Linked DNA regions of Homo sapiens. The protein of the gene in region 5 purifies or fractionates together with the protein of the main gene of each other region. This does not show direct contact. Each region holds a gene or a part of one and is shown on either strand. Other genes may lie near its edges.

Region 1 (3,500 bases), on a different chromosome or scaffold from region 5:
ACATATGTGACAGTGGTCCCATAAGATTTTTTTCACACAGGGTCTTGCTGTCACCGAGGCAGTGGTGCAATCATAGCTCATTGTAACCTTGAACTCCTAGGCTCAAACACTCTTCCTGCTTCAGCCTCCCAAATAGCTGGGAATACAGGCGTGCACCACCCCAGCTAATGTTTTTATTTTTGTGTAGAGACAGTGTCTTGGTATGTTGCCCAGGCTGGTCTCAAACTCCTGCCCTGAAGTGATCCTCTCACCTTGGCCTCTCAAAGTGCTGAGATATAGGCATGACCCACCATGCCCAGCCAGTCCCGTAAGATTATAATATCATAGTTTTACTATTCCTTTTCTGTTTAGATATATTTAGATATACAAATACCATTGTGTTACAATTGCCTATAATATTCAGTATAGTAACATGCTGTATAGGTTTGCAGCCTAGGAACAGCAGCTTATAGCATATAGCCTAGGTGTGTAGTAGGCTATACCATCTAGGTTTATGTAAATATACTCTATGATGTTTGTACAATGACAAAATTGCCTAAGGATACATTTCTCAGAACATATCCCCATCATTAAGCGACACATGACTATACTGAAAAACAGGAGTATAGACTACTGGATGCCCAATCACAGTAACAACAACTAAATACACCTTGTGCCTAAAACCACAGACATCTTCTGGGTTTCCAACTCTGGGTAGGTATGAGGGTGTGACCCGCAAAGGATCCTAGCTACAGGTGACACTGGGTTACCATCAGATTGACTCTCTCCTGTTAGAAATAAGCTGACACAACACAAACCTGCCACAAGCCTTCAAGATACATCTGTGTAACTCATAAGCTCTCTCTATATATACACACACACACGCACACACGTGGCTGATGTTTGTTCTAACAGTCCCTTAAAGTTTTCCTTTTATTTGACCTGGATATTCTACTTTGCCTCATGCAGAATAGAAGTAGCAAATGTTAGCTCTGGAAGGACCCTGAACTATCATATAATCCAACGTGGCCCCAATTTTCAGATGAGAAAATGGGAGATCCAGAGAGAAAAAGGGGCCTGGCAAGTCCCCTCGACATGTCAGCAGTACCAGAATGAATCTCACAGTTGACAGTAAAGACTTGGACAGACATATCCATTTTCTTCTCTCATCAGAACTCATCTAAGAATTACAGACAAATAATATACTGGAAACAATTAGAATAAAATGTTTATCATAGACTTACTTTTCCGCTTAACTACCCTATGAGCTCGAAATTTGATGAGGGTATCCAGAAACCATATGCATCGGGCCTGGCGGTCTCGGCTCTCCACATCTGATGGCAAAGACTTCAACGCTTCTATGACAAAGGTGCAATGGCTAAAACAAGGAAAAGAAAAGGAGGCCTGTGTCAGGGTAAGATGGGCTCTGTCAGGAACTACTTCCCTCTTACAACGAGAACAGCAGGCGCCTCTCACCCCGACGCACTCAACAGCTGATGAAACCCTGGGCAACAAGGCAAGACCCCATCTCTACAAAAACGTAGCCGGCATGGTGGCACATGTGTGTGGTCCCAGCTACTCGGAAGGCTGAGGCGGGAGGATCACTTGAGCCCAGGAGGTCGAGGCTCCAGTGAGCTGTCTGCGCCACTGTACTCCAGCCTAGGTGACAGAGCAAGACCCTGTCTCAGAAACAAAAAAAAACAAACGAACAAAAGCAGCTGATGAAGGGCCAGTACACTCAACACTCCTTATAATAGGAGAACATGGTTCAGTGCAGGGATGAATAAAGGGCTAGACAGTAAATATTTTAGGCTTTGGAGGCCATACAACCTCTGTTGCAACTACTTGACTCTGCCATCGTAGTGCGAAAGCAGGCACAGATATTACTTACGTAAATGAACAGGGCTGTGCTCCAATAAAACTTTATTTATACTTTACTTACTCACAGGCAGCAGGCCAGACTTGGCATGTGGGCTGTAGTTTGCTAACCTCTGACCTCTGTTTTTATAGTCAGGAGCATAGACTCTGTAGTCAGCCTGCCTGGGTTTCAATCCTTTCTCTGCCATTTAATGGTTTAGGCAAGTTTCTTTTTTTGTTTGTTTGTTTGTTTGTTTGAGACTGAGTCTCACTCTGTGGCCCAGGCTGGAGTGCAATGGCGCAATCTTGGCTCACCGCAACCTCCGCTTCCTGGGTTCAAGCGATTCTCCTGCCTCAGTCTCCTGAGTAGCTGGGATTACAGGCATGCACCACCACGCCCAGCTAACTTTGTATTTTTAGTAGAGATGAGGTTTCTCCATGTTGGTCACGCTGGTCTTGAACTCCCGACCTCAGGTGATCTGCCCGACTCAGTCTCCCAAAGTGCTGGGATTACAGGTGTGAGCCACCGTGCCCAGCGGGGCAAGTTTCTTGGTATCTGGTGCCCTGGTTTCTCCATCTATAAATTGGGGCCAATGATAGTACAGGTACTCTCCTCCTGAGCATTTTTTCTGGATTAAGAGATGATGCCAGTAAAGCTCTTAGAACAGTGCTTGGCAAAAATGTTAAGGCTCAGTCAATGCTAACTATTATTTTCAGGCACTGCTCTACTGCTAGCAAGACCCTGGACTCACAGAGATAAAAAGGCTCTTCAAGATCATCTCATAGATGCCTCATTTTACAGATAGAAAAACTGAGGCTTCAAGAAGGGAAGATAAGGGCAGAGTTCGGGGACTCAGTTTTCAGACTCCCCGCTCAGAGTTCGTTCCTGCACCTGCCCCTGAGTCACAATCACATTAAGACAACTATGAACTAGTAATGAGCTCTTTTTTGGAAATAAATCTTTGAAGCAAAAAAAAAAAAAAAAAAAGAAATAATAATAATAATTCCAAGGCACTGGATTTCAATGACCAGTAAAATTTTAAAACAAAAACTGGAGGAACAAACCTCAGATTGACAACTCTTTATCAAAATAAAATTATTAAAAGAAAAAACTCAAAAGCAAAAAAAACTCACTATCATAAAAGAAGCTGTTTTAATGGGAAAGGGGAGGGAGAAGGAAATAATCTCTGAATTATTTAAAATATACAATATTTTAAATACATAAATTTAATGTTAGAAAAGTTTGCCTACCATATCATCACAGAGAAACCATCACTTTGGCCAGCACCCATTCCCAGGCCAGCATTTGGGCCCTGCCAGTGACAATCAGCACCAGCATGACACTGGGTGACACAGGCCAGCTCTAGTTCCCAGCCCCAGAGTAGAAGGCCTCACCACCCTCTGCCCTGTCGCAGGTCCCACGGACTCAGAGACCAGCCCTCTCCCTCGAATGTGACCCACAGCTCCTGAAAGCCCAAACATTCAAGAAAACACTGGCTCATTCATGTCCAATGCTCCAGACACACTTCCTCACTGACTGACGCCCAGAGGACCTGCACAGTGTCTGACTACTGTTGGGTCCCAACAGCACTCCCCAGAATCCCCATCTGCTTAAGTCAGGGTACCTGTTCTCCTCAATCATCTTCAGTATTTCTTCTGACGTG
Region 2 (2,988 bases), on a different chromosome or scaffold from region 5:
TTCTGACATTCAGACCAAAGACAGAGCTCTTCCCAACTTGGACCCCTGTCTCCAAACAGTAAGCCCACCAGTGCAGGGTCCCACTCCCACTCCTGACCCCCACACCTCACGGCAGTCTGTCCCCTCCAGCTTCCTGACCTGACCTGGGAGAGGAAGCGAAGCCAGTTTGATGTGCAGGTCCGCTGTCTACAGTCCAGTCCTGACCCCAGCACCAGCCCTTACAAGCCCTGGCTTCTGAGCTGAGGGGTGAGTAGCTTCTGACCCCGACCACCCAGAGCAGTGGCAGGCAGCTAGCCTGAGGAGGTCGTGCAGGACACGCAGGGACAGGAGCCAGGAGCCAGTTGAGGTCTCCATCCCAAGTTCTTTGGAAAAGGATAACAGCCCTCAGGCTAGCAGAGGGGCAGAGCTAGGAGACTGCTGGAGTCCTGTCCCTCCCCAGGCCGCCTCCCACCCAGTCCCTCATGCACCCCCACCCCCACCAAGAAGCTACAAGAAACAAGGCCCAAAAGAGGAGGCTTTTAATACAAAGAGGGTGGGGCATAGCCTGGGAAGGACTTAAATAAGGAGGATAAGAGTGTCAGGAACCAGCAGCTGGGGGTACAGGGACCCTGCGGAGTGGGATGATGCAGACAGAATTCCGAGCCTCTTTGATTCTCCACCATCGGCCAAGCCTGCAGGGAGTGCAAGACGCAGCTGAGACTCGGCCCAGTCTCCACCCCATTTCCACCGAGCTGTCCAGCCTGCACCACCTTACCTGAACCCTCGAGGGCCACACATACCTGTGCTCCTGCCCTACCCCAGCCACCAGGAAGTCCCCAGAGCTGGAGAACTTGAGGCTGTTGATAAAACCCACCTGAGCAGAAAGACAACACGGAAAGACATTAGAACGCCCCCCGCCACCACCGTCCTCAGCATCACAGTCAAGGGCTGGGCCTTATCAGGCCTGGGTTAAATCCCTGCTCTGCCTCCTGCCACCTGGTGACACAGGCCAGCCCTTCACTTGTCAGGGCCTCAGCCTCCACATCTGCGAGATGGGGGTAAGCAGAGCACGGGGCTAGCAGTGAGTTTGTGAGGATGAAGGAGGCAGTGTACACCCAGTATGGCCTGAGGCTGGCTCCTGGTGGTGGGGCCCTGGAGACCCCATGACTGTCCCCACTGACCTAGACCCTGCATTCTCAGCACACATCACTGACAGATCCTGCCACCCTCCCCCAGGTCACCCTAGTGTGGACAGTGAGGTCCACACCCTCTAGCCTGGCACCCAATCTGGCACCAGCAGTACAGAATTCATCACAGGGCCAGGCCTCCATGCCTCTCCCCATGCTGCTCCCTGACTTGTACCCCAGCACCCTGGACAGGGCCTAGGATAGGAAGGGGAGCAGAGGAGGGAAAGTGGGGAGGGTTCCTGCCAGGCCCTGTGCTAGGAGCTGGCCCTGCCCTGAGAAGGTTCCCTTCTGGCAGGAAGAAAGACCTTAAAGAGCTAACTCCAGGGGCCTAGGCAGTGTGGCAGAGACAGGCTGAGCATTCAAGCACACTCACTCACCAGGGGGATGTCACAGAGAAGGTCAAGCTGCCGGAAGCCTTCCCCACACTGCCAAAGCCGCACACAGGAGCTGTGGGAGCCTGGGGAGACTGGAACAGTGAGCAACCCCTGCACCGGCCCACCCGGCGACCCCTCCTCCCTGCCTCTCAGGGCACCCACCTGTGGCCACAAGGTCTGTGTTGAGGAGGGCTGCCACCGACGATATCCAGAAGGGCTGCTCCAGGCCTGGCTCTCCCCGCAGCCCGTGAGCTTCACGCTGCAGGGCAAGTGGTCGCTTCTTGGAGAGACCCCACAAGGCCACAGAGCTATAAACAGGGAGGGAATACAGCAGTGAGGGGGCCAGAGGCAGAAAAGGCCCCCTGTGTAACACAAAGGATTAATGCTTGAGGGGATGGATACCCCATTTCCCATGATGTGATTATTACATATTGCATGCCTGTATCAAAACATCTCAAGTACCCCACAAATACGTACACCTACTAAGCACCCACAACAAATTTTTTTTAATTCTAAAAAAAAAGAAAAAAGGCCACATGACAGGAAGGGATCAAGGGCACACAGCCCGGACAAGGCCATCTGAGCTCTCTGCCTCATCATCCTCATCCATGAAAAGAGGTTACAACAGCTCCCCCACTGGGGGTGCCCTGAGGCAAGCTCAGGGCCCCGTGGACAGCCAGCACTCAGGAGCAGAAGCCGTGGCCAGAGACATCCAAAGGACCTCTTACCCATCGTCCGCGCCGGACACCATGTGCTCCTCATTGATTAGGTGGATGCAGTCGATGGAGCCCCTGGAGAAAGGGGCTGTGAGGAGCGTGGCCCAAGCCCACCCCCAGCCCATGTAGCCCCCACTGGCATGGCAGGCCACCTTACTGGTGGCCATAGAAGACAAGCTGGGACTCCTCGGGGATCTTCCACACACGTACAGTCCCATCCCGGCCCCCAGCCGTCACACAGCACTCCCGGCTCAAGGCATCCAGTGCAGCCACAGCGTCCTGGTGTCCGAAGCTAGAGGGCCGGGCAGAGCAGGATAGTGGGGATAGGGGTACTGCATGAACTCACGGGCACACACTCCCACACCCTCTCTCACACCATCCACACACCCTCTCCCATCCACACTCACAGCGTCTCCACGTAGGAGTTCTCTGCCACATTCCACACCTTCACGGAGCGATCGTGGGATGTGCTGTAGAGCTGGTGGGTGCCTCTGCGGAATGCCAGACCCTAAGGGTGCATGGGGAGAGGGCAAAGGGGACCTGGACTACAGCAGGCGAGAGACAGGTCAGGCCCAGGGAGGACTTCCCAAAAAGCAAGCCATGTGGCACGTGCTGTGAGGCAATTTTGTACTGCCCACATGCCCATCTGCCCCTGAGCAGATGCAGACGTCTTTTTTATTTATTTATTTTTTTTAGCGACAGGGTCTCATTCTGTTGCTCAGGCTGGAGTGC
Region 3 (3,500 bases), on a different chromosome or scaffold from region 5:
TCTGTATAGAAAATTTGCAGAGTATTAGTTAGTTAGCTTATTTAAGAAGTTTAACAATGATTACAGTGCCTACCTAGATCCTTTGAACTCCTCTGATGAAAGGGACTAATTCAATATAAAATACTTTTAATTTGAAAACAAAACACACACTGAGTTTTAACTTGTTTTGGTAGAGATTCTGAGTGTCTATCTTTAGATGGTGGCAGACATTAGGAGATGTAGAAACAGTATGAAGGTCAGGGAAGAGAGGCAGGTGATCAACTCTTGCTAATATAGGCTGATATCAGATAACTCTTAAGTTTAATAATTAATCTCATTTTAGCTGGAATAAATTTTTCACTTGTCAAGTATTTTTTTTTACTGTGCCTAATTGGCACAGTAAAATTGGCAGATATAATTTTAAGGACTTTTTGTCATGTTCTAACTTCTTCATAAAAACCTCTAATTTGTAAGATTTAAGATACTGCACAACATGAGAGGTACTGCAAATTACAGACAGCAAAGAATCGGTACAAATAAAAAACCAAATATTTATTTTGCTCTAACAAGACAGATGCATTAGGAACTTTACATTATTAAAAACTGCATTATAAAAAACAATTTTTTTTTTTGTGAGATAGTCTCGCTCTGTCGCCCAGGCTGAAGTGCAGTGGCATGATCTCAGCTCACTGCAACCTCTGCCTCCTGGGTTCACGCCATTCTTCTGCCTCAGCCTCCTGAGTAGCTGGGACTACAGGTGCCTGCCACCACGCCCGGCTAATTTTTTGTATTTTTAGTAGAGACGGGATTTCACCATGTTAGCCAGGATCGTCTCGATCTCCTGACCTCGTGATCCACTCACCTCGGCCTCCCAAAGTGCTGGGATTACAGGTGTGAGCGACCGCGCCTGGCCTATAAAAAACAGTTGTTTTAATAGAAGGGGGCCAAAAGTAATTTTTTTTTCTTATGAGAACTAAAAAAAATAGGTGTCATTAAAATGTCATAAAACCTAAATATCACAAAGCAGATCCACTGAATTATACTGAACTTTTTTGCCTTTGGTAGCTCTACCAACATTATTGCTAATGCATGCTTTACCATTCTTGTCATCTTTCTCATCGATTGTTTCAAAAGTAACAGGAGCAAAAGAAATCATGTTGTGTAATTAGCAGAAGACATTTTCTTCAAATCCTCTTATGGATATTGGCCTTTAGGAGACACAGTTGCATTTCAATTTACATTTTAAGATGGTAAATGTATTAAGGTGGGAAATACTCCTAAGTCAATTCAAAATCTTTTTAAGTAGGTTATAAGAAACAGGTTTCTTGTAATTTAATGTAAGAAGTTCTAATAGGAATTTGTCACTTTACTTGTGAAACTCATATTTCTCCCAAGTAAACAATTAAATTTCTCAATTTGTGACACACAACTTGCTGATACTTAGAACTGAAACAGACTATTCTATCATTGAAGGTGGTGAGTTTGTTTTCAACCCTGATACTCAAATAAAAGACCATTTATTGGAAAAATCAAGTACTCACCTAGGTATTACCAAAATAAACTATTCAGCCTTGAGATTCCATGATTCTCAGTTTCTAAATTAAATATGGCCCACAAACCACAACCACTTCAGATAGAAAGCAATTTGCCTAAACTTACTCCTATCCACAATATGCATGCTTTAAATAATAAATGTTTGTTGATGTTTTAAAATAAGGGCATCACAAGCACAGAGAAGTTATTCATTGGATTGAAATCATGTTAATCATTTACAAAATCTTGAGACGTTGACTTGAATTAAAACTATTAATAATTACATCATGACTATCATCTTACACGTTAAAGTGCATTTTGTCTTTTAAAGTGTTTTCAGATATGTTTTACTGCATCCCACAAGAAGCCCCTAGGAAGCAGGTAAGGAAGGTTTATATTATCTCCTTCGCTCAGAGAAGAAATCTAAGGCCGAATGAGGAAAACAGGCCCCTGGGTAAATTGGTGGCAAAGGATTCTAGTTATGGGCTTTTCTACGCCATGCTGACAAAACTACTACACAAACCACTCTTATGTCAGACAATATGTGGATTTTTAAAAAAAATAAAATTACTTCTATAGATAGGTCTATATTTATGTTTGCTGCAATGAGCTTAGTTGAGGCCTTTCATAAACAGGAAGATTAGGAATTTCTAAAATGAGAAACCATGACTAGATAACAAATACTTACCAAAATAGTCCAAAATATTTGGCTACTTAAGAAAAGACAAAATTAGAAGTTTTGTACTTAAAAAGGCATTAAAATTCTTAGTTAAAAGAGATTTAAAATAATGCTATACATTAAAATATTATTTTCAACATTTAGCTTAAATACTTAGGAGTGACAGTGTACTTGATCAGATCTAAGATACCATAAGTAACCATGACTGAGCTCATTTTCATGGCAGATTTAAGTCTGGATATGACACCATAGAATTAAGAATAGCAGCACCTGGATGAAACATACCTACTGCAGATTATTTGTACTGTAGACCATACCAATCACCAAAATCTCCTCAAATCTTTTTTTGAAATTAGGCAGAGAAACTTTAATGAAATACTAACCTGCATCATTTCTGTTTTGAAATATAGTCATGGCTTCAAGATTTAATGCACATACACCCCTCATGAAAGCTTTTTTCATGGAATCTTCAAAGTGCTCTTTTTCATGTTGCATTCTTTGAATCTCAGCTTTTGCATTTTCCAAAGCTCCAGATAACTAAAATAAGAATGTTTAAAAAGCAAAACAATTTGAGATACAAAGAAGAATACTGTCAAAAAAATAGATATATACTTTGAGATTATTCTCATGTGAAATATTAAAAAGTTTGTCACTTACCTCTTCTGCTATGTGCAATTTATTTTAAAAGGTACCTCTTACCTCTATTATCTCCATCAACAAAATGCTTTCATTCCTAACCTTAAAATCAAGGTTCAAACAAGGGGAATTTTATCCAGTCCCATTGAATATTGCTGATGTATTTTCATTTCACAAAAAGATACACCATTTTTTACTGTAAAACTTTTATGTAGGATGTTAAACAAAATACATTAAGAGCCACAGACAGCCCTTTCAGAAAAAAATAAAATAAACTACATGCCTGCAATATTAACAGAATTTTTATAATGTAAATGTTACCTTCAGTATTTGAAGTGCAGAGTGACCCTAGGTACAACACACTTTCCCATAGGCCAAACCTCAGGGGACTGCATTTTTTGCATGTCGTAGTGAACTGCAGAAAATTATTTGTATTATGGATTTATTTTTAATCTTAACAATTTAATGCTGTAATGAGTTATTTTTTCATTTTAATATTTAACTTCAAGAGGCCTATTGCATTCTTTAGAATGGATTTTATTTCATTTCAATTCCAAATGTTTTCCCATGAAAACAATGTTAATTTTATTATTAAAAGTCAATGGGAAAAAATAATTTCAATTTCTTTTTTTCTTTTTTGAGATGGATTTCTGCTCTTGTTGCCTAGGTTGGA
Region 4 (3,500 bases), on a different chromosome or scaffold from region 5:
ACCCTGGGCTAGAGCTTCTCGTTTTGTCCTCTTTGTCTTTTAGCCTCTCATATTTGTTATCTTTTTGACTCTGCTAAATTATGGGTAATTTCTTTTAGATCTTTGTTCCAGTCTAATTGTCTCTTAAGCTATGATTAAGTGACTGATTAATCCAATCTATTGAATATTTTTTTCCTTTTCATTTTGAAAAGTTTGGAACCTACAAAAAACTTGAAAGAATAGTGTGATGAGCCCCTCTATACCCTATACCTAGATAGCCAGTTATAAATATTTTGTGACATTTGCTTTTTCTCTAGTTTATTTCTGAACCACTTGACAGTAAGTTGTAAGGATGTCTTCCTACATGACCACGGTGCCATCATCAGACCCACCTTGCTAATGCTATTATATTCCCCCAATTTTTGTCAATTAAAAATTAAATTAATTAATTTTTAAAAAATGAGCAGCAGAGCCAGGGAGAGAATGGTGTCTCAGGAACCAAGAAAGGAGAACCTTTAAAGAAAGGAGTAGGTAACCATATCCACTGTGGTAGAGAAATCACAAAGATGAGGGAGCCTGGCAGCTCATCATATGATTCCATGAGCAGTTAACAAATGTGCTTTCAAAGACAACGAAGTTAAATTGTTTTAATGAAAAGAAAATATAGGTGATAGAAATCAGAAAACATCTTTCCAAGTTGTTTCAGTTTTTGGCTTTTTAAAAAACACCAGAATATCAAAATGCAATCAAAGATTACACACTGCATAAATTGTTACAAGTTATAATGTCTTTTTTTTTTTTTTTTGAGATGAAGTCTCGCTCTCTTGCCCAGGGTGGAGTACAGTGGCGTGATCTTGGCTCACTGCAATCTCTGCCTCCCAGGTTCAAACGATTCTCCTGCCTCAGCCTCCTGGGTAGCTGGGATTACAGGTGCCTGGCTAATTTTTGTATTTTTAGTGGAGATGGGGTTTCATCATGTTGGTCAGGCTGGTCTCGAACTCCTGACTTTAGGTGATCCACCTGCCTTGGCTTCCCAAAGTGCTGGGATTACAGGCGTGAGCCACTGTGCCTGGCCCCCAGATGTATTTTGTTATGGCCCACCTTTTTTACTCATGTGTGGCCCTTCAAGAGTCCTCTTTTATGTTTTTTTTTTAATTGTAATGTTTTTGTTTGTTTGTTTGTTTTTTGAGACAGTTTCAGTCTGTCGCCCAGGCTGGAGTGCAGTGGTCTGTTACCCAGGCTGGAGTGCAGTGATCTCGGCTCACTGCAGTCTCTACCTCTTGGGTTCAGGTGGTCCTCCCACCTCAGCCTCCTGAGTAGCTGGGACTACAGGTGCACACCACCACGCTTTGGCTAATTTTTGTAGTTTTCGTAGAGATGGGGTATCGCCATTTTGCCCAGGCTGGTCTTGAACTCCTGGGCTCAAGCAATCCACCTGCCTCGGCCTCCCAAAGTGCTGGGATTGCAGGCTTGAGCCACCGTGCCCAGTCCCGGTTTTATTCAGGGGTTTCTATCTTAAGTGCTATACCTTGCTGAGCTTTCCTGTATCTACAGTCTCTGAACTTTCAAGGCAAATAGTTTACTGCTCTGAATGTTATTATTTATTCAATTCTAGGTGTTTTGTAAGAGGAGAGGTTTTCAGTGGACCCAGTGTGCCATATTGCTAGAAGCATATGTCTTTCATTTTTTTTGGTGATATTGTATTGCTTTCCTCCCAGGAAATATGAGAAGTGCTCAGCACTGTGGTATTACCTTATAAGTTTGTCCACTCCCTTCCAATGTGTATGAAGGAATTTGGTGACTTCTGCTTAATGGTTTGCTGCAGGGTCCCAAAGTTTAGGCAACTTACCTGGGTGACAGGCAGAAATACTGCTTATTTTAGAGATGCAAATGCATGGTTCATATGCATTTCCACTCTTGAGGACCTCACACTGTTAATAATGGGTTTGGGTTTTAGAAGAAGGAGATATTCAGATGAGATTGAAAAATAGAGATTTCTTCAACCTTCTTTTGGCAACAACCTCTTTTTTGTGCCACTTGTCACTCACATGGGGTGAGTACAAAAAAAAATGGCTTTGGAGATTGGGGTTTGCATCCTGGTGCTGCTGCTTGCGGTTTTACCTTGGGTGTGTTGGTAACTTTTGAGTTTGTTTCTTAATCTATAAAATACAAACTAGATGATCAAGGTCATAGGCTAGTTGGGGAGATTCGATGAGGTCTATGCAGCACTCTGTAGTAGGTGTAGGAATAGTAGCCATATCATATACTTTCCCTCTGGAAGTCTTTAAATGGAGGAAACGAGACACACATGAAGCTTTTTTTTTTTAACCAAGTATTTATCATATTTTAATGGAAGTATGTTCATCTCTTCTGTATTAGTTAAAGGGAGGGAGAGTGCCATTGAATTGGATGTGGTCACTGTCTTTGAAGTTCAAAACTGAGGGTAGGGAATTGGGGCTGGCAGAGATACAAGGAAGAGAAAGGAGTAACTGGGAAGGGGTGGTCCTGTCCAGCCTGTGGCCCCACGGGGAGTCTGCTGTTAGAGTGCTGCTCCTCTCATTGTGCCCTTTCATGTTCCAGAGATTTTTTTCCTTTGCTCTTAGAAGAATACCAGTTTTCAAGGTGTCAGCCTTGAGCTCACAAGTGCAGATGCCTAATGAGGCAGGCAACGGGGATGAGGGAAGTGGCTGGGTGCACTGTGGCGTGTCTGCCTTGAGCCCCAGGTGCTCGGCCTTGCTGAAGGTCACCATGAGACTGCAGGCCAAACAGAACCAGGCTGTGAGCAACGAGTTTGCCACTTGTGATCTAGCATGGCACTTTAGTACTTTCATTTGACAGATGAGGAAATCGGGCACCTGAGATTTGCTGAGTGCCCAAGGTCACACTGAAAATTAGTGGCAGAACCAGCACTAATCTTTCTGTTCCTGGCTAGTGCATTTTATACTGTGCTATACACTGATTCTCTACCAGATTTTACTACCTCAAAACTATCACCAAAAGGGCATAGAAAAGAAAATCTGAGAGGAACCTTGACTGTTAATTTTAAGACACCGTCTCAGTTTCACTTTGTTCTTCAGTAACAAGCTTGTTTTCAGTCTTAGCCCATATACCTGGGGAGCTGGCCTTACTCGTGCTCCTGTTTCAGAGTTGAGGAAAGATGAAAATGGCATTTAGAGGCCATGGCATTGCCCAGTTCTGTACCAACTTTAAAGCATTTGCTTGCCATACTTGACATTTGACCGTACACCTGTGAAGTCTGGTTCTGTTTAGCATTTGCCAGCTGTAATTATCTTGTCAAAAATCAATTTGTAGTTTACCACAGGGCGTGTTTAAGTGTAACTTGTTAAGACCAACTCATAGCTTCAAAATCCTACTTGAGGTATCCTTCTTCACTCTTTGTGGGCTACATAACATAAAATGAACAATCCATTCATTCATTCCTTCATTATTTCTGATGGGTTGTAGATTGGTGTTTTCCTGTATTTGTAAAAAGAGAAAGCAGGTATCTCAAAGATCCAGTG
Region 5 (3,500 bases):
AAAGTGCTGGGATGTATTACAGGCGTGAGCCACTGCGCCTGGCCTATAGTGTTTCTTTCTCCCTTTTTTTTTTTTTTTTTTGAGATGGAGTCTCACTCTGTCACCCAGGCTGGACTGCAGTGGAGCGATCTCCACTCACTGCAAGCTCTGCCTCCCGGGTTCACGCCATTCTCCTGCCTCAGCCTCCCAAGTAGCTGGGACTACAGGCGCCCGCCACTGTGCCCGGCTAATTTTTTGTATTTTTAGTAGAGACGAGGTTTCACCGTGGTCTCGATCTCCTGACCTTGTGATCTGCCTGCCTTGGCCTCCCAAAGTGTTGGGATTACAGGCGTGAGCCACCGTGCCCAGCCTGTAGTGTTTCTTTTAATATTAGCTTAAAATGTCTTTTGAACTGTGGTAATAATTTTATTAGGATTACTATTTGACAGTACTGATTACAAAGTTGCACAGGTTTTGAGCAACTACCTACCATTATTTTCTTCACAACCCTGTTAACTGTAGTGCAATTCCAAAGTATTAAGCTTTTCATGAACAGATGTATCACAACATAGCAATAATGCCTATTCTAAGGGACTTCTAATGAAATATGATAGGGTTAACATGCAATTAAAAATAGGGAGAAGACTGGGCATGGTGGCTCACCCCTGCAGTCGCGGCACTTTGGGAGGCTAAGGCAAGTGGATCACTTGAGCCTGGGAGTTCCAGCCTGGGCAGCATGGCAAAACCCCGTCTCTACAAAAAGTTAAAAAATCAGCCAGGGATGGTGGCGCACACTTGCAGTCCCAGCTACTTGGGAGGCTGAGGTGGCATTGTTTGAGTCCAGGATGTCCAGGTTGCAGTGAGCCAAGATCGCACCACTGCACCCCAGCCTGAGCAACAGAGTGAGACCCTGACTCAAAAAAAAAAAAAAAAAAAAAAAAATGCCGGGTGTGGTGGCTCATGCCTATAATCCCAGCACTTTGGAAGGCCAAGGCGGATGGATCATTTGAGGTCAGGAGTTCAAGATCAGCCAGGCCAACATGGTGAAAGCCCGTCTCTACTAAAAATACAAAAATTAGTTGGGCAGTAGTGGTGCACGCTTGTAATCCTAGCTACTCGGAGGCTGAGGCAAGAAAATCACTTGAGCCTGGGAGGCAGGGGCTGCAGTGAGCAGAGATCACGCCACTGCACTCCAGTCTGGGCGACAGAGTGAGAATCTGCCTCAAAAAAAACAAAACAAAAACAAAACAAACAAAAAAACACAGAGAGAGACATATTTCTTGCTATGTTGCTCAGGCTAGTCTCAAACTCCTGGTCTCCCAAAGAGTTGGGATTACAGGGGTGAGCCACTGCACCTAGTCCTCTTTGCCTTATTAAAAATCAGAGTAAAGCAATGAAAACACAAATACACACCTATCCCATAAGACCATAGCAGATGAGAGAATTTGGGGGAATACTAAGTAGATGGAGGAGTGGCATGACTTAGCAGAGATAAAGGAGGGAAAGCCCAAGAAACAGGGCATCCAAGATCAGAGTAGTAGAGAATTCCTTTGATGAGGTTTTAAGGTTTTAAGAATCCAGACAATAGAGCCAGACTGCCTGGGTTCAAATCCTGGCTTTACCACTTACCAGCTGTATTGACCTTGGGCTTCAGTTTCATCTGTAAATGAGGATATTACTATCATCTTCTTCATAAGGTTCTGATGTGGTTCAAATGAGCATTTGTAACATTCTTAGAACAGATCTATGTTAAGCGCTTATCAAATAAAAGTAAGTTGACTTTATTTTCCAGTAATTCTCACCTGTGAGCCAATCCAAGACACATAGCTGCCATTTCACGTGGTTCTACCCCAGGGATTAATCCATCCATTTGTGAACGAATTCCTCTCATAAGTTCATTAACAACAGGACTATGGATACAACTGAGATTCAGCTTTTCCTACAAGAACATGAACATCTATATTAAATTAAAAAAAAAAAGACTTTCCTGAAGTTGTTATTATTATTTTTTGAGACACAGTATCACTCTGTCGCCCAGGCTGGAGTGCAGTGGCGCAATCTTGGCTCACTACAACCTCCGCCTCCTGGGTTCAAGAGATTCTCCTGTCTCGGCCTGGGATTATTGCAGGCATGAGCCACCATGCCCAGCTAATTTTGTATTTTTAGTAGAGACGGGGTTTCACCATGTTGTACAGGCTGGTCTCAAACTCCTGACCTCAAGTGATCCGCCCGCCTCATCTTCCCAAAGTGCTGGGATTACAGGCATGAGCCACCGCGCCCAGCCTGAAATTATTTCCTAAATATTAAAGTGGCACTAATTTAAATATACGCATTTCTCAGTTGGACAAGAAGCATAATTTCCAGTGTGTTTGTAGAATACTTGACTGTATCACTGGTGGAAGTAAAAACTGATACAAGCTTCCAGAAGACAGCTTGGCTATATAAATTAAAAGCTATAAAAAGATTAATATAATTTGACCAAGTAGTTGGTTTAAGGAGATCTTTTACTACCTGTTATTTAGCTTCTTTTTAAAATTACAGGTTATGCCAGGCGCGGTGGCTCACGCCTGTAATCCCAGCACTTTGGGAGGCCGAGGCGGGTGGATCACAAGGTCAATAGATCGAGACCATCTTGGCCAACATGATGAAACCCCGTCTCTACTAAAAATACAAAAATTAGCCGGGTGTGGTGGCAGGTGCCTATAGTCCCAGCTACTCGGGAGGCTGAGGCAGGAGAATCACTTCAACCCAGGAGGCGGAGGTTGCAGTGAGCCAAGACTGAGCCAATGCACTTCAGCCTAGCGACAGAGTGAGACTCCGTCTTAAAAAAAAAAAAAAATTACAGGTTGGGCGTGGTGGCACATGCCTGTAATCCTAGCACTTTGGGAGGCCAGGGCGTGTTGGCGGGCGTCTGTAATCCCAGCTACTTGGAAGGCTAAGGCAGGGGAATCCCTTGAACCCGGGAGGCAGAGGTTGCAGTGAGCCGAGATCATGCCACTGCACTCTAGCCAGGGCAACAGAGTGAGACTCTGTCTCAAATAAATGAAATAAAATAAAATAAAATAATTAGCCAGCATGGTGGCATGTGCCTGTAGTCCCAGCTACTGAAGAGGGAGGATTGCTTGAGAACAGGAGGTCAAGTCTGCAGTGAGCTGTGAGACTGCGCCACTGCACTCCCAATTAGCTGGGACTACAGGCGCCTGCCACCACACCCGGTTAATTTTCTGTATTTTCAGTAGAGACAGGGTTTCACTGTGTTAGCCAGGATGGTCTCGATCTGCTGACCTCGTGATACTCCTACCTTGGCCTCCCAAAATGCTGGGATTATTATAGGTGTGAGCCACCGCGCCCCGCCCGAATTGTTCTGCTTTCTGTATTTGGGAGGCTATTTTCCTAGTCTTTCTTTCCACTCTCACATTTTATTTCATCTCCAGCAATACACCCCTACTAAAAGTTTTCTAATAAATATATTTCTAAAAAATATAAGGACCCCATTTTCGTTGGAAAAAAATGTGGCTAGA
Region 6 (3,500 bases), on a different chromosome or scaffold from region 5:
TCGGGGGTAGCACCTGTGGAGAAGGACCACCCTGTGACATGCGGTAGGGACAGGGACAGAGGTAGAAGGGCTCTTGGGTGGGGGAGACTTACCAATGGGCACAGAAGAATCATACACCACTAGTCCAGTCTTTGACCACTTGCCCAGGGGATCCAGGTTAACCCCACGATTGATTAGAGCCTGAAAAGGGATGAAGATTTTTTTTTTTTTTTTTTGAGATGGAGTCTCACTCTGTTGCCCAGGCTAGAGTGAGGTGGCGCAATCTCGGCTCACAGCAACCTCCACCTCCCAGATTCAAGCGATTCTCTCGTGCCTCAGCCTCCTGAGTAGCTGGGACAACGGGCATGTACCACCATGCCTGGCTAATTTTTGTATTTTTCATAGGATGGGGTTTCACCATGTTGGCCAGGCTGGTCTCTAACTCCTGACCTCAGGTGATCTGCCCGCCTCGGCCTCCCAAAGTGCTGGGATTACAGGCGTTGAGTCACCGCGCCCGGTAGGGATGAAGATTTTAATAACCTCATAGGCTACTCTACCCAGAAGACAGATGAAGACATTAAACACATGCTTCATAAAAACATGGCCCATACCCCACAACTCCTATAGTGCTTACTCCAAACACAGTCATCATGGAGTCATTGAGCAGTTTCTCTCTCCCACTCCATCCTATGGTGCCCTTTTTTCTTAACCTCAGGCTCCTAACTCAAGATCTGAACTTCATCCCAATGGAGCAGGATGCCACCTCCTGTTACTTTATTTCCTAGAAGTGGCATCTGATTTTCTAAGAGGCTGAGCCCCTCCACTATACTAAAAATTTAATGACATTGGTTATACCACATTACATTATTAGGTTTTCTTCACACCAGGAAATATACAACACATATAACCCAACAACTGACTTTACAACAGGGGTCTTTAACCTGGGGCCCCTGAACCCTTGGAAATGAGTTTAAAATATTGACTGTGCATATGTGTCTTTTTTGTGCAGTCAGGAATCATATTTCCCCAGCTCCTCAATGATCTCCCTCCAATTTCCTTGGGGGCAGCACGCTCATCCTGAAGTCTCATCATCCTAGTCACAGGGAGCAGAGTATGAACTTCCCATTCCACAGAGGTCCTAGGCCCCCAGATCCTATCCTGCCAGAGACATCAGGCCTCTGGGTTTGCCCCCCCAGGATCATGCTTAGGTCCTAAGGCCCCACCCAGTCAGGGTAGCACAGAGGAATCTCTGGAGTTGGCAGAAGTCACTTCCCTTCTGAGATGAGTGAGCCTCAAAGGCCACCCCTCACCTGTGCAAGGTCTCGGCGTCGGGTTTTCAAGGTATTGGTCCGGAGGGTGACGGGCCGAGGCACCTCATTAGCTTCTAAGAACTCCACCAGCTGCGGGGCAAGACAGCAGGGAATAAGTGAGGCTGGCTAAGGAGCTCAGTCAGAAGAGGGGAGCAAGGGGGCCGAACATCTTCCTTACACAGCGTAAGGAGGCGAGAAAAGAAAAGCAAAAGAGGCATTCTGGCAATCCAGTACCTCAGACAGAGGGAAGAGGTCCATGAGCTTGCCAAGCAGGAAGTCTCCATAGGAGTAGTAAATGGCCAGATCCTTCTTGAGCCGGTTCAGGTATTCAGAACGAGACCGCCCTTCCTCCCGCTGAGCCCCAAAATCACGCAGAATTCCCACAATATCCTGGATCCGCTTGTGAACTCGTTGCAGGTCTGGAGCCTGGGCATGTGGGCCTGTTAAGGAACTGTGTCATGATGTCCTAAGGCCTGGAAATCCCTCTCCCAACCACCTTCCTCCTAACTCTTCACTCTGCCCTGCAAGGATATCCTGCTCCATCTCCCCAGCAGGGGGCAGCACAAATGGTTCCTCATCCACATTGATCTGCAGGCCCCCATCTGCCTCTTCCACCTTTGGGGGGCCTGACTCAGGGGTCACTTCTTTCTCTTCCTCCTCGTCCTCGGTCTCCTCTTCACTCCACTGGATCCTAGAAACAGGTCCAGGAACAGAGTGATTCACAGACCAAAACAGATACCTCCTCCTTCCTCACAGCTTCCCCACCCCAGTGGCTTCCTATGCTCCATCCCAATAGCTTCCAAAACTCACCCAGCAGCAGCTTCCCGGGCCTTCTGCTTCCGAGCAGCTCTTTCAATGGGCAGCAACTGAAGAGAGACAAGGGCTATTAATACAGGCCTGCCCTTCCATCAGCCCTTGTAGCAGTTCTATCTCTATATCTTATTTTTTCGCTAAATAAAAATCCAACACTTGCTCTCAGAAGGAAATAGAGGAGCAAAGAAATGAAAATAAGATGGGCGCAGCATTGCTCACTGTTGAAACTAAGTAATGAGGGCATGGTGGCACACACCTGTAAATCCCAGCTACTTGGGAAGCTGAGGCAGGAGAATTGCTTGAACCCGGGAGGTGGAGGTTGCAGTGAGCCAAGACCGAGCCACTGCACTCCAGCCTGGGCAACAGAGAAAGACTTCATCTCAAAAAAAAAAAAAAAAAACCTAAGTAATAAATTAAAGGGTTCATTACATTTTTCTTTCTACTATTATGTTTTTCACTTTTCCATTAAGAAAAAAAAAAAACTTGAAAAATACCTGGATGTATAAAGAAGGACAAAAATGGCCCTTGACTACCATTCTGCCATATTTTTTTTGAGAGAAGTCTCGCTCTTGTCCCCCAGGCTGGAGTGCAATGGCGCGTCTTGGCTCACTGCAACCTCCGCCTCCCAGGTTCAAATGATTCTCCTGCCTCAGCCTCCCAAGTAGCTGGGATTATAGGCGCGCACCACCATGCCCAGCTAATTTTTTGTATTTTTAGCAGAGATGGGGTTTCACCATGATGGCCAAGCTGGTTTTGAACTCCTGACCTCAGGTGATCCGCCCACCTCGGCCTCCCAAAGTGCTGGGATTACAGGTGTGAGCCACCGTGCCTGGCCCATTTTGTCGTTTTTTTTTTTTTTTTACTTACTCTGTATTTTTCACATAATCCATTTTCAAGTTTGTTTCTTGCTTTTTAGACTTCAGTTACATCACAGGCATTTTCATAGACATAATGACCAGTGTAACTGCATCATATGCATGAACCATAACTTACTTAAGCATATTGTGTATTTTGGAAGTTTCCTGAGTTTTTGGCATTATGATCCACATGGTGCCTGCAAACCTAATAATGACCCTGTAGATACAAGGGGATGTAGGAAGGGGGTGCACATGGGGACCTTCTCTTTTTATTCTATACGATTCTAATAATACATCCACACACTAATTGTATAATAACTTCCTGCACCTCAGTAAAGAACTATTTGCTGACATTTTGGATCATCTTCCTTAATAGGGAATTACTATGTCAAAAGGAAGCAGTTATTTTTTTTTTTTTTTTTTGAGACAGTCTCACTCTGTCACCCAAGCTGGAGTGCAGTGGTAAGATCACAGCTCACTGCAGCCTCAACCTCCCAAGCTCCAGTCATCTTCCCGCTTCAGCATCCTGAGAAGCTGGGAC
Region 7 (3,500 bases), on a different chromosome or scaffold from region 5:
TTCTTTTTAAAAAAACTGTGTGTGTGTACACATATATATATATGTACACATATATAACCTATTTTTAAAATTACGTAATTACAATACTCTAGAAATCTAGATAGGTCTAATCCATACAAATAAAGCATGACTTTTATCTCTTCATGTTAACTTCAAAAAAGTAACAAAATGGTTTACAACAGAAAAATCCAAGAGTTCTGATGTGGAATCAAGTTTTTAAATCATACAAACAGGTCAATTTTGTAAATCAATAAAAAATCATTATTTTCTTTAAAGTATCTCTTATGGCTTGGTGTGATGGCTCAAGCTTGTAATTCTAGCACTTTGGGAGGCCAAGGCAAAAGGATCACTTGAGGCCAGGAGTTCACCTGGGCAACACAGTGAGATCCTGTCTCCACAAAAAATTTAAAAATTTGCCAGTCATGGTGGCACATGCCTGTAGTCCCAGCTATTTGGGAGGCTAAAGCAGGAGGATCACTTAAGCCCAGGAGTTCGAGGTTGCAGTGACCTACGATTGCGCCACTGCACTCCAACCTGGGCAACACAGCAAGACCCTGTCTCTAAAACATAAATAAATAAATAAATAAATAAATAAATAAATAAATAAATAAATAAGGTGTCTATTCTTATTCAACTTTTAAAGAGTAATTTTATCTTATAATTAGCTTGTTAAGTTTTTAGAGCAGAATTAATCTTTATAATTTAACTGCACTTTATCCAAAATATAATAAACATTTAATGAACCATGAGATTAAGCATATTCTTTTTAAAAATGAAATGCCAAGTACTTTTTGTAGCCATCTAACCTTTTTTAAAACTCAAAAGGAAATCTACATCTCATATCTTCATCACAAAAACACTGAAAAGAGTTCATTATCTTACTGGTGCCATCTCCATGTTACTAATCTGAGCCTCATGAAAGCCTCCATCTGACATAACTTCTTCTTCTGTTTCTTCTTCTGCTGTAGCAACATTTCTCCGCTTGAATAACTGAAAGATAAAAGATTGGTAGCAATGTAAATGTAAATTCTAACACAAGGGAGTTCAACATTCAAATACTAGGCACCCCATTCAAAGTGAAGTCTTTGAAAATCATTTTTAAAATTCTAAAGCTGTCAGCTTTTACTGATGAGTAACCATTTCAGATTTCTCCATAGTCTTATAATCAAATATAATTAACTATTACAACATGCTATAAACAACACTTGATAATGTAAAACTTACTAAGAGAGGTCTGACACTATATGACATTAAAAAAAAAAAGGTTGGAAAAAGGAGCTGGGTCATGCTTGGCCATTTTCCTCATCCCTTTATGTAAAGTATACATCAGGACAGTCCTAACAATGTACCAAGGAAAATGAAAATAAAAACTATGTTCAAATGACTTAATACTTCCCTCCTAATCTCCAAAGATGGTGGACTGTGGCTTCTGACCTTCCCAACCTATCCAGCAACCAGTGGCAACAAATGATGACTGCTTAAGCACTACCTTTAAAGCAGCTCCGTTAATGTGTATAGGCAAAGGAGACTAGTTCTCTCCAAAGTCAGCCAACGAGGGTGATTACCATTATATCCTTATGAATCCTGGGCAGCACATTTATTCATCAAGCCATGATGGAGTAACAGTAACTTACCCTCTCTCACGCTGAACAACTAAAAACAGACAAAATACATAAAATAATGTTTCAGCCATTGGACAATAAAAACCACAGAGTAGTGATATCTCAGAAAGAAAAACCCAAGATAAGCCCCAATACTGCCTCAGATTACTATGCAGACAGTTCCAGGCTGCAGTGCAGGAAAGGTAAACTCAACCAGAGTTTAGATGCTCCTTGGATTTGAGAAAACACAGTTCAGAGCTGAGAAGGCCAAGAGACCTAAAATTCATAACGCAGAGTACAACACAAAAAGAACACCCAAGATCTACAGGAGGTTCTCTCTGAGATTTAACTTAATACTAATCAGCACATAATCATATTCTTTCAGAAGACAGAAGCAGAGACAGTACTTCTCAACTCATTCTAGGAGATCAGCATTACTCTTAATACCAAAACCACCTACCAAAGGCCTATTTAACAGTAGTTTCTTTTACCCAGTACATGTCCAGCTATCAAGAAAAAATTACAAGGCATACTAAAATATAAAAAACACATTTTGAAGAGACAGAGCAAGTATCAGAACCAGATTCAGCCACGGCAGTGATGTTGAGATTATCGGACCAAGAATTTAAAACTACGATTAATATGCTAAGGGCTTTAAATGGATAAAGTGGACAGCATACAAGAACAGATAGGCAATGTAAGGAGAGAGATGGAAATTCTAAAAAAGAACTAAAAAGAAATGCAAGAGATCAACAACAACAGAAATGAAGAATGCCTTTGATCGACTTTTTAGTAAACAAGACACAGCTAAGGAAATAATCTCTGAGCTTAAGGAAATCTCATTCGAAATCTTTAAAACTGAAAAGAAAACAGAAAAAGGACTGACACAAATAGAACAGAGTATCTATGAACTGAAACAACTACAAATGGTATAATAAACATGGAATGGAACTATCAGGAGGAGAGGAAAGAACAAAAGAAATATTTGACACAATAATGACTGAGAATTTCCCCCAAATTAGTATCAGACACCAAACTGTAGCAGGCCATGTCTCATTAATGCAGGGCTCCATAACAACTGTTTCAGTACTGACTGACTGGTTAAGTTAAATATTAAAAGCTAAAAAAAGCCAGTGCCCTTATACAAAGGCTGGAATCTAACAAAAGCCCACCAAGAGTTTTGCCTAGGCCTTTCCTGGGCCTTAAAGCATAACAAAGAAATTCCCCAGGCCTCCACAAACAAGTTTATTGGATGTCTGAAAGAACTCCCCAAACCTCCACGAGCAGGAGACAAGATAAGGGTAATCACCTCAGCACCTAGATTAAGTAAATTTACTGAGACTCCAGAGGAAGGTCTTCAAGACTCAGACCTTAGTTACAGATTAAAAGAAGTTTCATCACTTATGTCTTTAGATGAATACACACTTACACGCAGACATATAGCTTAAAAGGTATATAATATCTGGAAAACTTTGTAATTTCGAGTTGGTCTGGCAATAATTTCTAGGCCTTCTCCCTGTAACCAGGTACAAAAATAAAAACTCTCTTCCTCCCCAGTTCATCTGCATCTTGTTATTGGGCCATGAGAAACAGCAGCCCAACCCAGTTTGGTCTGGGAACAAAACCACTGGAAGCCCAGAGAACACCAAGCTGGACAAAGGCCAAAAAAATCCCACTACACCTAGGGATATCATTTTCAAACAACAGAAAATCAGAAATAAAGGAAAAACAATCCTAAAAGACAAGGGTAAAAACACTGTACTTAACACATGAATAAAGATAAGAATGATAACCACACATGCCAGAAGAAAGTGAAGTGAAATATTTGAAGTGTTGAGAGAGAAAACCACCAACCTAGAAACTCTGAACCTTGCAAAATCATCCTTCAAAAGTGGAAAC

The links.
Region 1: the proteins of NOP58 (region 5) and POLR1E fractionate together in Homo sapiens (co-fractionation; one large-scale study listed by BioGRID). This does not show direct contact.
Region 2: the proteins of NOP58 (region 5) and RRP9 purify together in Homo sapiens (affinity purification with mass spectrometry; 2 studies listed by BioGRID and IntAct, with this or other methods). This does not show direct contact.
Region 3: the proteins of NOP58 (region 5) and POC5 purify together in Homo sapiens (co-immunoprecipitation; 2 studies listed by IntAct). This does not show direct contact.
Region 4: the proteins of NOP58 (region 5) and RUVBL1 purify together in Homo sapiens (affinity purification with mass spectrometry; 4 studies listed by BioGRID and IntAct, with this or other methods). This does not show direct contact.
Region 6: the proteins of NOP58 (region 5) and NOP2 fractionate together in Homo sapiens (co-fractionation; 2 studies listed by BioGRID). This does not show direct contact.
Region 7: the proteins of NOP58 (region 5) and KPNA1 purify together in Homo sapiens (affinity purification with mass spectrometry; 3 studies listed by BioGRID and IntAct, with this or other methods). This does not show direct contact.

Annotation. Positions count from the first base shown.
Region 1 is NC_000009.12:37,495,948-37,499,447, reverse strand, and holds part of POLR1E (DNA-directed RNA polymerase I subunit RPA49), read right to left. Parts: coding exon 3,462-3,500; intron 1,358-3,461; coding exon 1,224-1,357; intron 1-1,223. UniProt on the Homo sapiens protein: Component of RNA polymerase I (Pol I), a DNA-dependent RNA polymerase which synthesizes ribosomal RNA precursors using the four ribonucleoside triphosphates as substrates.
Region 2 is NC_000003.12:51,932,929-51,935,916, forward strand, and holds the end of RRP9 (U3 small nucleolar RNA-interacting protein 2), read right to left. Parts: intron 2,765-2,988; coding exon 2,664-2,764; intron 2,549-2,663; coding exon 2,414-2,548; intron 2,332-2,413; coding exon 2,269-2,331; intron 1,849-2,268; coding exon 1,703-1,848; intron 1,624-1,702; coding exon 1,544-1,623; intron 854-1,543; coding exon 780-853; intron 672-779; coding exon 578-671; 3' UTR 501-577; downstream 1-500. UniProt on the Homo sapiens protein: Component of a nucleolar small nuclear ribonucleoprotein particle (snoRNP) thought to participate in the processing and modification of pre-ribosomal RNA (pre-rRNA).
Region 3 is NC_000005.10:75,686,438-75,689,937, forward strand, and holds part of POC5 (centrosomal protein POC5), read right to left. Parts: intron 2,729-3,500; coding exon 2,575-2,728; intron 892-2,574; coding exon of another isoform or gene 773-891; exon of another isoform or gene 511-772; intron 1-510. UniProt on the Homo sapiens protein: Essential for the assembly of the distal half of centrioles, required for centriole elongation. Acts as a negative regulator of centriole elongation.
Region 4 is NC_000003.12:128,113,813-128,117,312, reverse strand, and holds part of RUVBL1 (ruvB-like 1), read left to right. Parts: intron 1-3,500. UniProt on the Homo sapiens protein: Possesses single-stranded DNA-stimulated ATPase and ATP-dependent DNA helicase (3' to 5') activity; hexamerization is thought to be critical for ATP hydrolysis and adjacent subunits in the ring-like structure contribute to the ATPase activity.
Region 5 is NC_000002.12:202,282,763-202,286,262, reverse strand, and holds part of NOP58 (nucleolar protein 58), read right to left. Parts: intron 1,919-3,500; coding exon 1,782-1,918; intron 1-1,781. UniProt on the Homo sapiens protein: Required for the biogenesis of box C/D snoRNAs such as U3, U8 and U14 snoRNAs. Part of the small subunit (SSU) processome, first precursor of the small eukaryotic ribosomal subunit.
Region 6 is NC_000012.12:6,561,792-6,565,291, forward strand, and holds part of NOP2 (28S rRNA (cytosine(4447)-C(5))-methyltransferase), read right to left. Parts: intron 2,458-3,500; coding exon of another isoform or gene 2,359-2,457; intron 2,156-2,358; coding exon 2,100-2,155; intron 1,981-2,099; coding exon 1,823-1,980; intron 1,724-1,822; coding exon 1,524-1,723; intron 1,380-1,523; coding exon 1,290-1,379; intron 181-1,289; coding exon 93-180; intron 14-92; coding exon 1-13. UniProt on the Homo sapiens protein: S-adenosyl-L-methionine-dependent methyltransferase that specifically methylates the C(5) position of cytosine 4447 in 28S rRNA. Required for efficient rRNA processing and 60S ribosomal subunit biogenesis.
Region 7 is NC_000003.12:122,466,440-122,469,939, forward strand, and holds part of KPNA1 (importin subunit alpha-5), read right to left. Parts: intron 991-3,500; coding exon 883-990; intron 1-882. UniProt on the Homo sapiens protein: Functions in nuclear protein import as an adapter protein for nuclear receptor KPNB1. Binds specifically and directly to substrates containing either a simple or bipartite NLS motif.